Homo sapiens: one gene and its partner. The protein of the gene in region 2 purifies or fractionates together with the protein of the main gene of each other region. This does not show direct contact. Each region holds a gene or a part of one and is shown on either strand. Other genes may lie near its edges.

Region 1 (3,500 bases), on a different chromosome or scaffold from region 2:
CACTCCAGCCCGGGTGACAGCGCAAGACTCCGTCTCAAAAAAAAAAAAAAAAAAAAGACAGGTTTTCGCTGTTTCCCAGGCTAGTCTTGAACTCCTGGGCTCAAGCGATCCACCCACCTCTGTTTCCCAAAGTGCTGGGATTACAGGCGCAAGCCACCACGTCTGGCCTGATTGTTTTTTTTTTTTTTTTTTGAGATGGTCTCACTCTGTCACCCAGCTGGAGGGCAGTGGCGAGATCACAGCTCACTGCAACCTCCAACTCCTGGGCTCACTCGATCTTCCTGCCTCAGCCTCCCGAGTAGCTGGGTTTACAGATATGAACCACTGTGCCCTGCTAATTTAAAAAAATTTTTTGTAGTAGAGAGAAGGGTCTCCCTATGTTGCCCAGGCTGATCTCAAACGTCTGGACTCAAGCAGTCCTCTCGCCTCTGCCTCCCAAAGTGTTGGGATTACCGGTATGAGCCACCTCGCCGAGCCCCTTATGATTTTCTTAGTAATGTTTTCTTTTCTCTAACTTACATTATCATAAGAATACAGTACAGTTGAGCTTTGAACAACACGGGATTGAACTGTGCAGGTCCACTTCTGCATAAATTTTTTTCAACTCAACTTAGAAAATACAGTGTTATCTGGATGTGAAATCTGCAAATATGGAAGGCCAATTTTTCGTATATGCAGGTTCTGCAGGGCCAACTGTGGGACATGAGTATACACAGATTTTGTTATATGTGGGGGTCCTGGAGCCAATCCCCCAAGTATACTGAGGGATGACTGCATATGATACATGTAATATACAAAATGTGTTAATTGTGTGTTTATGTTATTGGTATGATTTCTGGTCAGCAGTAGGGTATCAGTAGTTAGGTTTTTGGGGAGTCAAAAGTTATAGTGAATTTTTGATTGTGCGGGGCGGTGGGGGTTGTTTTCCTAATCCCTGCATTATTCAAAGGTCAACTGTGCTGATAATTAAAAGATCTCTTATGGATTCTGATGCTTTCTTACCACTGAGAATTAAAATAGCATCATTCTGAGTTTTGTTTTCATTAAAATAGTAAAAAACAATCAGGTTGTAGGTTCTCAAAGTTTACCTGTATGTATGTCTTTAAAACTTCAATAGAAACTTCCTCCTTCATAGGAAAAAAAGACATAATTATAAATACACTGCTTATATGAAAGTAACAAAATTTTTGATACAAATTCCATTATTAAATAATTTAATAATTGTAATGTTTACCACTGAGCAGTAACTATACACCAAGCTAAGTGCTTACCAAAGTTCATCTACTGCCTGATTTAACCTTACCATAACTCTTTTTGGGTAGTTACTATTATTGTTCACATTTTACAGAGGATGAAATTAGGACCAAGGGAAGTTTTATTTACCCAGAGTTACACAGATAGAAGCTGCTGAATAAGGGTATATACTCAGGACTCCTACTCCAAAGCCCAAGCTTTCAACTACTGTATCATTCACTTTCTACATGCACTCTGACCAAAATGTTATCTTCTTTTTTAGAAAAAAAGCAACAAAACAACAACCAACAAAGTTTTAAAATCTCACATAGCACTCACTTTGTTTAGTTAGCTTAGCTGGTTGATTTAAAGCTGGGTACAGACAAGGATAAAGTTATGAATTTATTAAAAACCAGTTAACCAACAGCATTCTGTGGCCACAGACTAGAACCCTAAAGGGCCACTCTCAGTGAGTTATCATTGAGTGACTATACAAGACTATATGGAAGACTTTTGATTCCTTATCACCATTTCTAGAAAACAATAATAAAAAAAGTAGTGTTTTCTTGACAATAGGTATATAGCATCAACATTACAGAGAAGAAGAAATCGTTCATTTTTATATACCTTGGTCTGTAGTCCCAGAGTACGGAAAAACAAAATAAGGTGAGTCATAAAGCGAAGCAGGTGTCCAGGTAGATTGTTTCTGCTTTTGGAAAGCCATTTGCTAAACTCATCCATCAAACCTACAAGCCATCAAAGTGAAGATTCAACAATAGGAATAAAATCAAAAGAAAAAAATAAACATTACCAAGAACATTTATTTCACTCCTATAGTGCTTTCAAGTCACTGTCTCATAATTAATAGCCATGATATAACTCTACACCCTCTTTGAAACAGAGTTTGGGTTCAATCCGAACTTTATTTTATAAAAACCAAATGAAAGGTCACCTCTGACATAAAGTAAATAGTTGCATTCAAATAGGTTAATATTTATCAAGATTAAAAGATATGGTAAGTCACATGCATTGTTTGGATAACTTTAAAAAATCACTATAAGACAATGAAGAACTCATAAAGAGTAAAATAAAACTGGCTGGGTGCAGTCGCTCATGCCTGCAATCCCATGTCTATAACATATAGCACTTTGGGAGGCCAGGGAGGGAAGATCACCTGACGTCAGGAGTTGGAGACCAGCCTGGCCAACAGCGAAACCCCGTCTCTACTAAAAATACAAAAATTAGCCAGGCGTAGTGGTGCACACCTGTAATCCCAGCTACTCAGGAGGCTGAGACTGAAGGATCTTGTGAACCCAGGAGACAGAGGTTGCAGTGAGCTGAGACTGAGCCACTGCACTCCAGTCTGGGCAACAGGGTGAGACTTTGTCTCAAAAAAAAAAAAAAAAACACACACAAAAAACACAAAGTAAAATAAAACCATATCTTACCATCAATGTCTCCCAGGATAAGAAACTTTTGAACTATATGATAATGTTCTTGATTCTCTTCCAGAACTCTCTGAAAAAAAAGTTTTTAATTTTCCATAAATCTTCTAGCAGTCATTCTGTAGTATATATTCACTGTTAAACTAAAAATGTTAAACTTTTGAAGGAACATATAGAAAGAAAAAGCTGGAAATGAAGGGCCTTAGAAAGATCAAAACAAAATAAAACATGGAAAGGATACTGCCTTTGGAATATACTCACAGCTTACAAATCCAGAACTGAAAAGCATCTTTGAAAGTAGAGACCTATGTTATAACAATTTAATCTCTCAATGGTATTAAACTTTTATTCTTATATTTTATTCCTATTTACCTTGGCACTACACATGGTGGACGAGAAAGGAAGAACTCATGTGACCTAAGCAAAATAAACTATTAAGATTTCTTTCAACATGAGCAGCAGTACATGAAAGCATTCTTTGAGTATTCTCTTCTGTACATGGCACCAAGGGTGAAAAAAAAAAATAGTGATCAGGTACAGAGTAGAGAAAACCTTTTCTAACTTATTTGCAGCTTGATTTTTTGAAGAATATAGTTCATTTTTTGTTGTCAAACGTATTTTAATTTTTATTTAGTTGGCTGTCTAAATTTTCTTTCAGCATTTATTAATTTTTACATTCAAACCTTTGCTCTATATGGAATTTATTTTAGTTACATGGCATGAAGTAGGATCTAGCTTTGTTTTCTTCTGGATGGAAAGCCAATTATGCCAGCGCCATTTATTTAAATAAACCATCCCTTTCCCTCTGAAATGAAATGTCAC
Region 2 (3,774 bases):
TGTTGCTCTTCTTTTTTTTTTTTTTTGACATTTTTGTCATGAAATCTTTGCCCGTGACTATGTCCCGAATGGTATTGCCTAGATTTTCTTCTAGGGTTTTTATAGTTTTGGGTTTTACATTTAAGTCTTTAAGCATCTTGAGTTAATTTTTGTATAAGGTGTAAGGAGGGGGTCCAGTTTTAATCTTTACCTCAGTCTCTCAAGTAGCTGGGATAACAGGCGACTGCCACCACGCCTAGCTAATTTTTGTAATTTTAGTAGAGATGGGGTTTCACAATGTTGGCCGGGCTGGTCCTGAACTTCTGACCTCAAGTGATCCACCCACCTCAGCCTCCCAAAGTGCTGGGATTACAGGTGTGAGCTACTGTGCTCGGCTGAGCCACATGTTCTTGACTGAATTTTGTGAAACTGTGAGAATAATCCTCACGACACCCATCAGGTCCCTTGGGAAAAGAAAGCCAAGCAAGAGGCAGCTGTGTGGGTGTCAGAGAGGTCCTAGGAAGCCCTGTTTGTGGCCTGGGATACGGCAGGAAGCCTCTCTGAGCCTCAGTCCATCCATCCACTCACTAAGATACTCAGAGCATCTACTGTATATCAGAGACTCTCCGGGCTCTGGGAATACAAGAAAAATGATGACTCCTGCCTTCAGATAGTTACCTCTTGGTAGGGAGAAGGTTAATAAACAGGCAGTTGCACACTATAATGCTGCATAGTGATGAGTGTTTTTGAAGGCAATGAAGCAGGGCTGGGAGGGGCTATTTCAAAATGAGAGTCAACGAGAACCTCTCTGAGAAAATGACCTTTAAGTCGGATGAAGAGGAGTAAGAAAGCAGGATATACAGAGGCCTAAACGAAGATTATTCCAGCAAGAGAGAACAGCATGTGCAAAGATTCTGAGGCCTAATACTGGAGGGAAATCATAAAGGCAGTGGAGTTGGGGCAAAGAAAGTGAGGAGAGTAAGATCAGAGAAATAAGAGGGACACATGGTCGGTGGCCTTGGAGGCCATGGTGAGGACTTTGGCTTTCCTGCAGGTGACTTAGGAAGTCATGGTGGGTTTTGAGCAGAGGAGTGACAAGTTTTGTCCTTTGTTTAACAGGATCACTCTGGCTTGTCTGTTAAGAATAATCTTAAGATTATGCTTAAAGTGAAAAGCAGGGAAATCAGTTGACAAGCTATTGCAAAAATCCAAGCAAAACATGATGGTGGCTTGCACCAAAATTAGGTTACAATAGAAGTGATGACAAACCCTCAGATTTGGAATACATTTCAAGGTGGAGCAACATGATTTCCTGATGGAGCAGATGTGGGTGGGAGAGAGAGAGAGAAGCTCAGCCTGCCTCCAAGTGTTTTTGTTGGCATAATCAATCAGAAGGATGGAGGTGCCATCAGCAGAGATGAGGAAGGCTAGAGCAGGCAGTTTTAGAGGCTCCACTTTGGACTTGATAAGTCAGATGTCCATTCCGCCTGCAGATGGGGGTGTGGAGGATGTTGAATGCAAAATTGATATATCTCATTTCATCTTCAAAACAATGTGTGGGTATATATCACCATGTTGCAAATGAGGAAACAGATGCTCAGTGGATTGAAATTCTATCTTAAATGGCACATCATAAGTGTTAGAACAACATGTGAGTAATGGGATCAGGATTTGAATCCCACTCGACTGGCTTCAGAGCCCATACTCTCCCCCTTCTCCACACTACTCTTGAAGTCTTTGTACGAGCAGAAGGCACAGTCTCAAGAGCTAAGCACCCCCAGGTGTGGAACATTTACTGCATGTGGCACTTTAAAGGGAATGTCTCATTTAATTCATACAACAACCCTACATGTACCATGATTATCCTCTTTTTCAATCATGGAAACTGAGGGACAAAGAGTCTCAGATTTAGTAAATGGTAGATCTAGGATGTGATCCAGGGATCAAGCTTAAGCACTTTGCCATTCTCCAAAAATAAATGTTTGTCAAATCAAAGAATAGAATGGAATTGACTAAAATCTGGATATTGCTTCTTGGGAAATATTATTCAAAGACAGTGTCACCTTATCTTTGGATCAGTAGATGTTTGTTGCATATAATAGTCACAATCCTGACAGCTGGGACCCAGAAAGTCTTTTATTTCTGGAATGGTGGCTCATGCCTATAATCCCAGTACCTGGGAGACCAAAGCAAGCAGATTGATTGAGGCTAGGATTTCAAGTCTTTTATTCCACAAATATGTCCTGAGTACCTCCTATAAGGCACAGGAGCTACAGAGGTGACTGAGTCACTGAGAAGCTCAAGGTCTAGTGCAGTTGGCAGGGTTATTCTAGTCCAAACACTAATCAGGATACATAAAACGGAGTGATTGCATTGAGCATTTCTATTTTTTCTGATCTCTCTTATTTGTGCAAGGCCGCCTCAGAGTATCAATTAGTGAGTTAGATCATTTGCATATTAGAAAAAACTGGCATTACCTTGGCCTATTCTGTGCTCCACATTCTTCCTATGAACTAAGGCATTTCTCTTCCCTTTTGATGTCATTCTTGTCTCATGTGTATAGTAGAAGCAAGAAGACAATGTGGTTAATTGTAAATATAAGCTTAAGCTAATATTCAGCAAGCATTCCATTTTGCTTTCGTGATGATTAATTTTTAAATGCCAAATTTGCAACAACAACAACAAAAAAGTGCCATTTTCTCATCTTTCCCAGAGTTTGAAGCTGATTTATTCAAGCCTTATGTGATAACACTTCATGTAGGGTACACTTGCCTTATTGAGCCAGCATCACACATGGTGTTTTGTCTAGGAGTATTGGTATATGAATGTGGAGCTATCTTAAAAATCTGTGTAGAGATGGTTTAACAGCAAGTTTACTGATTATCTATTTGAGGGTTTTTGTCTCTGCCTTTCCACAGAAAAGTCTGGACACCTACTGTTTCCTAGTCTTTGCTACAATTTGTATCACAGGTGCTATCTACCTGTATTTTGTGCTGCCTGAGACCAAAAACAGAACCTATGCAGAAATCAGCCAGGCATTTTCCAAAAGGAACAAAGCATACCCACCAGAAGAGAAAATCGACTCAGCTGTCACTGATGGTAAGATAAATGGAAGGCCTTAACAAGTTTCCTCCTCCACGTTGGACAATTATGTCAAAAACAGGATTGTCTACATGGATGATCTCACTTTTCAGGAAACTTAAAATTTACCCATTATTGGGAAGCTTAAATGAATTGAAGCTATGCAAGTCTTTTATATTATTAAATATTTAAAAGTAAACCTGTACTAATCTAACATTGCAACTGTGTTAGCATTATTCACAACTGAATCTCCCAAACCCTTCTGGAAGCTGCAAGGAATCACTCTATGTTTCAGTAGACCCAGCGTTCTTCTATATAGGTAGATGACCTGCCTTCTTCATGACTCAACCCATGATTTCAAAATGAAATTGGGGAAATAGTAGGTTAATGCTTTATCAAAGAAAAATCAATTTGGTCTGATAGGGGACTCAACGGATTAGAGATCACAGACTGAGGTTCTAGTCCCAGCTTTACCACAAGCAGCCTTGACCTGCCCTCAACCTGGATCCCAGTGCCTCAATGACCCTAGGCTTCCATCCCTGATATAGGCTTTCAGAAGTCAGTGGAAAGATTATTCATAGTGCCTAAGAAATGCCTGTTTCCAATATTTGACCTTGTGGATCTCAGGCTTTGGAGAGCCTAATACCAACACACCAGCCTGCAGATTTTGTCTTTCCCAAACTGTGTTCCAGGAATGGGCTCAAAACTTCAGGG

Evidence for each region. Proteins that work in one complex are often made in the same cells at the same time.
Region 1: the proteins of SLC2A9 (region 2) and NUP107 purify together in Homo sapiens (affinity purification with mass spectrometry; one large-scale study listed by BioGRID and IntAct). This does not show direct contact.

Annotation. Positions count from the first base shown.
Region 1 is NC_000012.12:68,724,978-68,728,477, reverse strand, and holds part of NUP107 (nuclear pore complex protein Nup107), read right to left. Parts: intron 2,752-3,500; coding exon 2,682-2,751; intron 1,980-2,681; coding exon 1,861-1,979; intron 1,128-1,860; coding exon 1,089-1,127; intron 1-1,088. UniProt on the Homo sapiens protein: Plays a role in the nuclear pore complex (NPC) assembly and/or maintenance. Required for the assembly of peripheral proteins into the NPC. May anchor NUP62 to the NPC. Involved in nephrogenesis.
Region 2 is NC_000004.12:9,825,724-9,829,497, reverse strand, and holds the end of SLC2A9 (solute carrier family 2, facilitated glucose transporter member 9), read left to right. Parts: intron 1-2,897; coding exon 2,898-3,101; 3' UTR 3,102-3,274; downstream 3,275-3,774. UniProt on the Homo sapiens protein: High-capacity urate transporter, which may play a role in the urate reabsorption by proximal tubules. May have a residual high-affinity, low-capacity glucose and fructose transporter activity. Transports urate at rates 45- to 60-fold faster than glucose.